Homo sapiens: one gene and its partners. The protein of the gene in region 2 interacts with the protein of the main gene of each other region in a biochemical or structural test. Each region holds a gene or a part of one and is shown on either strand. Other genes may lie near its edges.

The links.
Region 1: the proteins of NR0B1 (region 2) and NR1I3 form a complex in vitro, tested with the Homo sapiens proteins (one study listed by BioGRID).
Region 3: the proteins of NR0B1 (region 2) and NRIP1 form a complex in vitro, tested with the Homo sapiens proteins (one study listed by BioGRID).

The regions. Positions count from the first base shown.
Region 1 is NC_000001.11:161,232,187-161,235,356, forward strand, and holds part of NR1I3 (nuclear receptor subfamily 1 group I member 3), read right to left. Parts: intron 1,153-3,170; coding exon 983-1,152; intron 761-982; coding exon 621-760; intron 1-620. UniProt on the Homo sapiens protein: Binds and transactivates the retinoic acid response elements that control expression of the retinoic acid receptor beta 2 and alcohol dehydrogenase 3 genes.
Region 2 is NC_000023.11:30,306,487-30,310,693, forward strand, and holds the start of NR0B1 (nuclear receptor subfamily 0 group B member 1), read right to left. Parts: upstream 2,905-4,207; 5' UTR 2,878-2,904; coding exon 1,710-2,877; intron 1-1,709. UniProt on the Homo sapiens protein: Nuclear receptor that lacks a DNA-binding domain and acts as a corepressor that inhibits the transcriptional activity of other nuclear receptors through heterodimeric interactions.
Region 3 is NC_000021.9:14,963,944-14,967,596, forward strand, and holds part of NRIP1 (nuclear receptor-interacting protein 1), read right to left. Parts: coding exon 773-3,653; 3' UTR 1-772. UniProt on the Homo sapiens protein: Modulates transcriptional activation by steroid receptors such as NR3C1, NR3C2 and ESR1. Also modulates transcriptional repression by nuclear hormone receptors.

The DNA of each region.
Region 1 (3,170 bases), on a different chromosome or scaffold from region 2:
TGTTGGCCAGGCTGGTCTCAAATTCCTGAGCTCAAGTGATCCACCCACCTTGGCCTCTCAAAGTGCTGGGATTACAGGCATGAGCCACCGTGCCTGGCCTATTATTATTATTTTTAGCTTTCATTTTTTGAGACAGAGTCTCACTCTGTCACCCAGGCTGGAATGCAGCGGTGCTATCTGAGCTCACTGCAGCCTCAACCTCCTGGGCTCAAGTGATCCTCCCACTTCAGCTTCCTGAGTACCTGGGACTACAGGCACCCACCATCATGCCCAGCTAATTTTTGTATTTTTTGTAGAGTTGGGGTTTTGTCATGTTGCTGAGGCTGGTCTCAAACTTCTGGACTCAAGCGATCTGCCAGCCTCCGCCTCCCAAAGTGCTGGGATTACTAGTGTGAGCCACTGCGCGGCACCTCAAGGGCACTTTAGATGCAAGCCTGTACTTCAGAGATGGAGAAGAACTCCCAGTTCTGATTGGCACATTTAAAACCAAAGCTGGGAATTCAAGACCTAATGCTTGGAAAGGCTGACGCATGTGATAATTTGTAGTCAGTGACTTTTCGGGGTGGATATACAATTTACTGAAGTGTTTGCCTCCTGAAAGATGAGGGGAGGTCACTCACCGGAAGACGGGCAGGTCCTTAGTAAACTTGATGACTTGCAGTACCATGAAAGTGTTGATGTCTGCGAAGTGTGTGACCAGAGGCAGCACAGGGGCCAGGGTGGGCAAGGGCTGGTGATGGATGAACAGATGAGCTGGAGGCTGCAATGATCAGAACATTAGCTAGAGGCTCTGGCCCTAGGGCCCTCCTTTAGGCCTCGCCAGCCTTATCTTGGAAGAGTTCCTTGCTGAGAAGCCTGCTCAGGCTGGGGTTCTGGAGATCTGTTCTCAGTATCAGTGCATGGCATACACCCCTCTCCTTCAGACCAGCATTTTTGGGTGCCCTTTTAGTTGTATTCCAACCCAAATCCTGTCGGTGCTCACCCTAAACTGCACAAACTGTTCAAACATGGTGCCCATGTGGCGGGTGTGGGCCCCCAGGAGTGTCCGGATCAGCTCTTCTTGCTCCTTACTCAGTTGCACAGGTGTTTGCTGTGCCCGCCGCTGGGCCTGCTTTGCTCGCCGCAATGCCAGGGCTTCTGCCGACAGTATCACTGTGCCAGGCAAGAGATCATGACAAAGCTGTTGAGACCAGCAGAGCATTTCTCTCTGCTGGTCCCTGATCTGGGGCCCCTCAGCTGCCCTGCACAACGAAGGATGGGGGCAGTGGGGGGAATTCCTGAGACTTTCTTGGGCTTGGCTAAAGTCCTAGAGGCTCCAGGAGGCAGGGGGCTCCTATACACTTCCACCAACCTGTGAAGAACTGCAGCAGAAAACTGCACTGTGGGGGAGAAGGGAAGGGTGGCGAGGAAAGTATGAAAGATGTGAGGAAAGGTGCGAGGGCTTTTGGGGAAACAGTGTAGAGGGAGGGGTCTTCATACCTAGAACATCACTTTATATGATGTTTTCAAATAATCCTTCAAAAATAATCAAATAATCCTTTCAAATAAACCTTTATCTGATGTTTTAGCAAAATTTCAAAACTTCTGAGGTTAAATCCCACTGAATGAAACAACCCCAGGATAGGCAGGGCTGGTATTCATCATATATATATGTGTGTGTGTGTGTGTGTGTGTGTGTGTGTGTGTGTGTGTGTGTGTGTGTATATGTGTGTGTATATATATGTGTATATATGTATATATATGTGTATACATGTATATATGTGTATATATGTGTATATATATGTGTATATATATATTTTTTTGTTTGTTTTGTTTTGTTTTGAGATGGAGTCTGTCACTCTGTCGCCCAGGCTGGAGTGCAATGGAGCAATCTCGGCTCACTGCAACCTCTGCCCCCTGGGTTCAAGCAATTCTCCCTGCCTCAGCCTCCTGACTAGCTGGGATTACAGGCACCCACCATCACGCCCTGCTAATTTTTTTTTTTTTTTGTATTTTTAGTAGAGACGGGGTTTCACCATGTTGGCCAGGCTGGTCTCGAACTCCTGACCTCAAGTGATCCACTCACCTCGGCCTCCCAAAGTGCTGGGATTACAGGCGTGAGCCACTGCACCCAGCCCAATCACATTTTTTAGAAATGTGGACAGGCTTAGATTCTGGTGACAGAACCAAGGTCACAAAATAAGTAATATAGATTGAATTCAAACCAAAATCTTTTGACTTCTGCAAAAGATCCAAGATCAAACCAAGATCTTGAATTCAGACCAAGATCCTTTGACTTCTACAGTTTCCTTTCATTCTTCCATAGTGAGAATCGTGTGATATGGAAAAAGCAAGAGTTTGGGAGTCAGGTAAACTTGAGTTTGAATACTGACTGTACAACTTCTTCTTCCTTCTTCTTTTCCTAGAGAGGACATCTCACTCTGTTGACCAGGCTGGTCTTGAATTCCTGACCTCAACAATCCTCTTGTCTCAGCCTTCCAAAGTGCTGGGATTAGAGGTGTGAGCCACCGTGCTCGGCCTGCACAAGTTTTTAGTTGAATTAACTTGGGCAAATTAACTTCCGTGAGCCCCAGTTACATCCTCCTTTGGGAGCATAGCACAGTTACCTGGCACAGAGAAAGCATTAATTAAGTTATTGAGCACCTACTAGGTGACAGGCACTATACTCAACAGATAGAAAATAAAAAACACACCTGTAATCTGAGCACTTTGGGAGGCGGAGGTGGGCAGATCGCCTGAGGCCAGGAGTTTGAGACCAGCGTGGTCAACATGGTGAAAGCTCATCTCTACTAAAAATACAAAAAATTAGCTGGGTGTGGTGGCACATGCCTGTAATCCCAGCTATGCAGGAGGCTGAGGCAGGAGAATCACTTGAACGCAGGAGGCGGAGGTTGCAGTGAGCCGAGATGGCGCCACTGCACTCCAGCCTGGGCAACAGAGTATGAGACTCTATCAAAAAAAATAGAAAGAAAAGAAAAGACAAGACTAGCCATGTGGCTATCTAGGAGAAAAGCATTTCAGGTAGAGGAAATGGCAAGTGGAAAAGCCTTGGGGAAGAGTGCGCTTGGTGTTTTTTTTTTTTTTTTTTTTTTTTTTGAGTCGGAATCTGGCTCTGTCACCCAGGCTGGAGTGCAGTGGCGCGATCTCGGCTCACTGCAAGCTCCGCCTCC
Region 2 (4,207 bases):
AGGTACATTTGTGTTTCAAACACACTCAGCTTAGCTGGTTAAACTCATATTGAGAGAGGATTAGGAAAAGTCAATCAAGAATAAGGAAGAATGTGTGTGTGTGTGTGTGTGTGTGTGTGTGTGTGTGTGTTAAAAGTATATAAAACAGAGTCAAGGGAAACTGTTGATACTGAAACTAATGGAATGTAAATTTCTGGAAGCTGAGCCCCTCTCACCTTTATATCCCAACAGGACGAGGAACATAGTGGATGATTAGTAACACTGGCTGAAGGAATAAGAAGACTGTTTTCCAAATAATCTTAAGAATCATCTGCGACACTTATTATGAATGCAGATTTGCAGACCCTGGGCCAGAGCTACTGAATCAGAATATATAAGGCAGGAGCCTAGAAAGACTTTTATCTACTCCCTCCCACCCCCAACCACACACACACAAGTACTTCTTATGCACAGGCAAGTTTGGAAAACAATGGTATAAGCAAAAAGGTAACATATAATAGACACTGGGGTGAGCTGAGGTCTCTACGTCATGAAACGTGAGGTTTGAACAAATTATTATCCCACCAAATACTGATCTATGCACCCTCAAAAATGCTAGGCAGGGGGCAGGGACTTAATCAGAGATTCCAGCACCAGGGAAAAAAGATACAAAAGGAGCATTATAAAAACTATCCCAACTCAAGTTGCCTGGAAAATTTTGTTCCCACTTCAATCATTTTGAAAGGACGCTGGTTGAAGATGATTCTAATAGTGAGAAACACCCAAGACAAGGTGCCTGGCTGTCCAGGGAGACGTTCCTCCAGTGATTTGGTTGCACTCTGTGGGACAGTGTGTCCAGCACCCAACAGACAACCTGAAAGTTTAGTGCAGCCAATATCCCACTGGGCCCAGAAGACAGGACCCTCAGGTGCCACAACACACCAACCATTTACTTGGGACCTTGGGACACATCTACCTACTCAGTAAAATGGGGTGGGGGGAGGCTACAGAGCAAAGGGGGTTGATTAGCAGGTCTCTAAAGTCTCTTTGAATTCTAAAATACAGTGCTCCTGCTCTCAGTCCCTAATGTGTCTTTTTTCCCTATCCCTTTGCCAACCTGATATTATTCACAGAGATTTGGAGGAAGGGATAGTCCAGATGCTTAGGACCATACAAATAACCATTCAGAGGCAGGCCCATGAAACACTACATCTAGTGTCTTGTGTGTCCCTAGGGAATAGTCTCTCTATGGGACCCTTTAACAAATGTTTCCTTTTTTGCTAGCCTTAATAGATTTCCTCCCCCCAAAAAAGGTTCTAGTAAATTTCAGAATGGGGTTTCAGAAATCGATGTTGCAGAATCTTCAGTGAGCAAAAACTTTTTTTAGAAAAAGATATGCTCTGGACTTAAAAGAAAGCTAAAGAAGAAAGAATAACCATTTCCCATGAAGGCACAAACTTTTCTATGGTAAGAAATGTGTAGAGAGCCAAGTACAAACCTAAACAAACAACTCCCCTCCTCTTGGCTGAGTTTCTGATAGCAGCCCACCCAGCAGAAGTGGTTCCTGGAGCTCCCCACCCCAACTCTGCTGAGTTAGTCACGATTTCTTCACCTTTGCCCCGACACTCTCCTGATCACTGAAAACTCGTTACTGCCCGCGCCCCTAGATAGGCACTGCCCGATGCTTTTGTGAGCTGGGAAAAGCCGGCGCCTAAGGCCAGTACCCTTACCCGGGTTAAAGAGCACGGTCCCCTTGAGGTAGGCGTACTCCTTGGTACTGATGTTCAGACTCCAGCATTTGGAAAGAAAGCACTTGATGGCTTGGACCTGGGAGGCGGAGGGCACCTTCCTGGCCTCCGCCGGCGGTGCCAAATGGTGCTGCAGCGTGGGCACGGGCAGTGGCTCGTTGCCCCCGGTCTCCCGCCGCCTGGTGGTGAGGATCTTCTGCAGCATGCTGGGCTCCGAGACTTCCACAGTCTCGAACTGCAAGCGGTCCTGGGCCAGCTCAAGCATGAGCAGGGACGCCCAGCAGTTGCGCACCAGCACCAGCTGCTGGTCCAGGGGCAGCACCTGGAAGCAGGGCAAGTACTTGACGAAGCGCAGCGTCTTCAACAGGCCCGCTGAGGCTGCCTCGCAGACCACCTGTGGACTCTTGAGCGCCACCGGCCGCAGCGCACCAGAGGAGGTGTCCCACCAGGGGGCCCTCGGCCGCTCCTCCGGAGCCGCCTGCGCTTGATTTGTGCTCGTGGGCACGCAGTAGAGGGTGCTGCCCTGCTGCGGGTGGTCTTCACCGCAAAAGCAGCAGCGGTACAGAAGCGCCGTGGCCCGCCCGCCTGGTAGCGCCTCTTTACCCCCTGGCCTCTGCGCGAAGTAGGAGCGGTCCCACCACGCGCCCCCTGGCCGTGCCTCGGGCGCTGCCGGAGCCACGTGCGTTTGCTTTGAGCTAGTGAGCAAGCTGTAGAGGATGCTGCCCTGCCGCGGGTGGTCTTCACCACAAAAGCAGCAGCGGTACAGGAGTGCCACGGGCCGCCCACCCGGAAGCCCCGCTCTGCCCACCCCGGGATCAGAGCCGCACGAACAGCCCCAGCACGGACCCAGCGTCGCCTCGGGCGCCTTCGGTGCCGCGTACGTTTGCTTTGCGCTCGTCAGCATGCTGTAGAGGATGCTGCCCTGCCGTGGGTGGTCTTTACCGCAAAAGCAGCAGCGGTACAGGAGCGCCACGTTCCGCCCGCCCAGCAGCCCCTCTCTGCCCACCCCGGGCTCATCGCCGCACGAACAGCCCCAGCACTGATCCACCAGCCGCGTCTCTGGAGCCTCAGGAGCCGCGCGCGTTTGCTTCGCGCTCATAAGCATGTTGTAGAGGATGCTGCCCTGCCACTGGTGGTTCTCGCCCGCCATGGCCCGCGGCGCCCGTAGCCCAGTTCTGCCCAGTGGCTGCCTCCTGGGACCTATTTATACCTAGCGCGCACGCAGGCGCGTCGGCCGCCTCGGTCTGGGCAAGGGCGCGGAGGCGGGCGGTGTGTGCGGGGGGGCGCGGTGCTGCGCTCCGGTGTGTTCGCCCATGACCTCGGTGGTTCGAAGGGGCGGGTGCTCTTTAAAAGCTGGAAATGGAAGAACAGCAGCGTGGGAGCTCCTGGACACTTTCCTCCTTCCTCTCATTACCCCTTTCCCTGTCTCAGGAAGACCGGAGGAGAGCGAGCGCCTGGATGCTGTTGCAACTCTTTCCATTGAACCCTCGCATCTAATTTGTTCCCTTTATTGGGAGGGCAGGGGAAAAGAGGAAACATCTACTTCTATGCTCTTTGTAAACTTTCATTAAATTATCACAGTTTGTGTGACTTATATTTGTATATGGATAGGGAGGTCTCATTTTCTGAGACCTTGAAAAATACAGAACATAGACAAGCATCATATGGGAACTCGGTGGAAATGCCCAATCTCAGGCTCCAACCAGACTTTCTAACTCTGAATCTGCATTTTAACGGTGTCCCCAGGGATTCACATGCACCTAGACGTTTGAAAAGCACTGCTCTAAATATGCTATCATAAGCGCTCAGTTTAATGCCATCAGTATTTATAAGCGCCCACTATGTCCTGGATGCTGTGTTAAGAGAGCTGGGGGCAGCGAGCAGGATGTAAAAGTGCCTAAAACTTAGGAATATAATAATTACGAGGGGATAATATTGTTACAGTGAGAATTGTTTTCATTTTAGTATATATTTTTTTTTCTTTTAACTTTTAGGTTCAGGAGTACATGTGCGGGTTTGTTATATAAGTGAATTGCTTGTCGTGGGGGTTTGGTGTACAGATTATTTCATCACCCAGGTAATAGTATCCAATAGGTATTTTTTCTCATTCTCTCCCTCTTCCCACCCTCCACCTTCAAGTAGGTTCCAGTGTCTGTTGTTCCCCTCCTAGTGTCCAGGTGATCTCTTTATTTAGCTCCCACTTGCAAGTGAGAACATGTGATATTTGGTTTTCTGTTCCTGCATTACTTTGCTAAGCATGATGGCCGCCAGCTCTCATTCTTTTTCATGGCCGCAGTGAGAAATTTTGATCCTTGTAAAAGTATTCCATTGGTAAGTGTGTAATTAGTATTTCTTTTCCCACCCTTCCTAAGTGAATAATGATAAATAGAAGCATCAGGAAGCCTGGATCCATTAGTCTTCACTTGCCACACAGCTGTGAAGACATGGGGCAGGGAAGGGTGTTGGTATATACCAGCTGA
Region 3 (3,653 bases), on a different chromosome or scaffold from region 2:
TGTTAACTTTTCTAATTCTGTAAAAGGAGGAGTATTAATTTAGTAAAGTAGTTAAAATACAAAAAATGGAAATCTGCCTTTTTTTTAAAGGATCTATCAAACTTCCCTCAATTGTAATCAATTTTTACTAAGTAGCACAAGGTTTAAAGAAATATATATTGAAAAGGATCAGGGTGGGACAGACACATTGGGAACCACAAAACCTCTTCCAAGAGTTAAAAATAAACACCTTTTTTTTTTCTTTTTAGCAAAAGTGAAAAATGTAAGCATATATTTTTCTAATTTATTTTTGAATTGGATAATAAGCTGTGAATCAGCACTAGGTTTTTTTTTATTGGATAATTATCCTTTAAAGAGTTGTTTAACAGTTTAGACTTTAAAAATGTGTTATGTAGGCTGACTTCTGAAAAGCAAAATAAAGTACCCTAATAAAGGCAGCAAAATGCATTAATCCACTATGAATGGAGTTTTACATTTTAATTTATGCCTAATATTTATAAAAGAATTTCATTCATAGGCTACTCACAGTTGTTATCTGATGCATACAGAAGTGTTAAACAACCAATTGCTAGTTCAGTAGTTTCCTCATGACATCTAATGTTAAGCAAAAATTAGTATGCATATTTCAACATCACCAGTAACCAATACTTTTCAAAATGAAAAAAGTTTCAATTATACCATGCTTTTTTTCAAATCATGCTCTTATTTATACAGATCTCAAGTTCATACTCATTAGTTTTAAAAAGATCCAAAACTGGATGGCAGGTACATTTTATTCTGATTCTTTCTTTATCGTTAGCACGCTTCCCAGAAGTCCATAAACTTCTCCATTTGCGCTGTGTGGGCGAGAAGCATTATTTCCCATATGGCTATTGTAAGGGCTTCTTAAATTAAAGAAAGAAGCTTTCGTTTCTGCAGTAGGAAGTAACTCTTCTTTGGCTGTGACCTGTGAGACACTTTCAGCAGATGAAGCCTCCCTCCAAATGTCCTTGTCTTGTGTTTCTCGACTGGTAACAGAATTGCCTCCTTTTTGAAGCATGTAATATAGTATTGGGTTGGTTTTGGTCAATCTTGGAGAGTCTTTTTCATACTCATTCTTCTCCGCATCAGTGATAACCCACTTAATGGGTCCTTTCTCACTGGGCATGGAACACCCATTCAAAAGCCCAGATTCTGGTCTAGACCCTGCACAGCCCAAGTGCTCAGGGAAAGTAGGACTCACAGGAGTTTTTACTACACCTGGGTATGAAAATGTCCTGTTATCCATGCAACTGCTGGGCTGAGTGGAACTGTACATCAGTCCATTTAAAGAAGAAATGCTAAATTCAGGTTTGCTGTTGGTCACATTATTTTTGTGTCCTTTCTTTTTACTGTCAGCCACAGAGTTACTTCTGTGCGGGGACAAATCTCGCACACAGTTTTCTGAGAGAAGCAGCTGTTTCAGAACATTAAAGCTTTTGCTCTCTCTGGCCCAACTCCTGTGTTCACTTTCGCTGGCTGAGCCATGACCAGCAGGATATTTAAATTCAAGATCATTTCTGCTAAATTTCAGCTCTTCCTGGTTAAGCAAGGACCCATACAGTACTTCTGGGGCACTGTGATTGTTTGCAGCATCAACAATGTTGTTTTTCATCTTTTTAAATGGATTTTCTAATGGCTCAGTATAAAGCTTCCTTTTCTTAGGGACCATGCAAAGATTCTTTGATTCTAGAAGTGCCATTTCATTATTTCTGTGACTCCTGTCTGAATCATCTGCCAGGTAACTATCTTGATTTTGTCTTAGCAATCGACTTAGCAGACCATTCTTGGAGAAAGAAAAATCCTGAGGTGAAACAGGCTCCGATTTAAAGTCTTCGGACACTGGTAAGGCAGGTGCGCTTCTCTGCACAGCAGGAGCCATACCCAAGAATGGGGCACTCTTAGCATCATGGCTCAAGTGCACATTTGTGTTAGGAATTTGTAAGTCATCACAAGGCTCAGATTTTATTTTCACCATCAGTATTTGTTCACTTAAAGCTCTCTCTGAGTGTTCCTGAGTACTTTCATCTCTTAAGGGAGTTTTCTCTTTTTTTTCACTCTTCCCTTTGTTGGGGTTCCCCAGGAGCAACTGGAGGACAGTACGTCTTTCAAGCAGATTTTCTATTTCAGAACCAGAAAGCCCTGGTTCAGGACCTGTTGGTTGACTACTAAATGCTTTATTTTCTTCAACTGCATTTGTTTTATTTGAGAGCAAAGGGCTATTTAATCTATCAATCATACCTATCGGTTTATCTGTGTTTCCAGTTAACAGCTGTTTGCTGGGTCTCTGCTCTTCCACTGACATGGATGACTGCATTCCACATTGTGCTAAATTTTGTAACAGCTTACTGGCACTAAACGTTGCAGAGTTCTGTGCACCTTCATTTTGGGCTGGTTTCTCTCCTGGTGGGTCTTTGCTTTTTGTAAGGTCCATTGAGTGGTTAGATGCAGTATTTGTTAGCTTTTCAGACTGAGTACTGCAGACATATGGTGGGGAATTCCATTTGATGACCAGAGAGTGTTGAGAGAGATTGATGGGAGACCCTGCTTTGCTTGATGTAAGTAAAGGTGGAGTGCTCACTGGAGTAGTCCGATTTGTACTGGGGCTTTCTATCACAGAAGTCCTTGCATAATTTTGTGTATTGAACTTGCTCACATCATTGTGTACTCCCTGAGGGCTGGTGTTTTTTTCTACATTTTCTTCATTCTTATGGCCAAGTAGCAATTGAAGAAGTGTTACTTTCTGGTGTGAGTTTAGCTTAGAATTCTTTGAGGTATCTTGATCTTCTTTGATATCTACATCTGGGACTTTTGGATCCCAAGTGTTTAGCAAGGATTGAGTGAAGTTATCCAGGGAAACAGGTTGGTCAGATTCTGATTTTTCAGTTCGGTGTTTGCAAGACAAGTCTATGGGAACACAGTTGGAATAAGAACTTTCATCACCACTGCTGTCATCTGTAAAACTAGGATTGTTATCTGAATATTCATCAATAGTTGTAGGTGTACTACTTTCCTCAAAAATGCTTCCTCTCTCACTGTGACTGTGTCCATTCATTGGCTTAGGTATAGTCTGGCTTTTAAGAAGATGTAAAAGCAAACTATTGTTAGCAGCTTGTTTTATATTGTTTCTTTCCAGTGAGTTCTTATAACCTGCATTTTTAGGGGAAGAAGGAATGATACCCATTGGATTTTGAAACACTGTAGCACTACTTTTGCTAGCCATCAGTTTGCTTGATGATGTTCTTGCCTGACCATTAAGATGGCTTGACATTCCTTTTGGGAGCTGGTAACTGCCAACATCCTTCTGGCCATTTTCTTGCAATCTGGCCATAGCAGCAAGTCTTTCACTTGCTGCTTGATTTGCATTTTGCGTTTTTAAAGCGTGTTCTCGAGAATACTGCTGCAAATGGGCTTCGCTTGACAGAAGTAATGCTAACTGGCTACAAGCAACACTAGGTTTAGGTGAGGTGGCAGGACTAGCCCTTTTTTCCACCATGCTTGCAACAGCCTGTAATCTTGCAGCACATGACAACGGTTCACTCATGACCTTTGTTCCACTTTGTCCAACATGATGAGGAGACTCTGCAAACCTATCTCTGATGAGGTTTTTAGTCACATCAGGAAGATTCGTATCA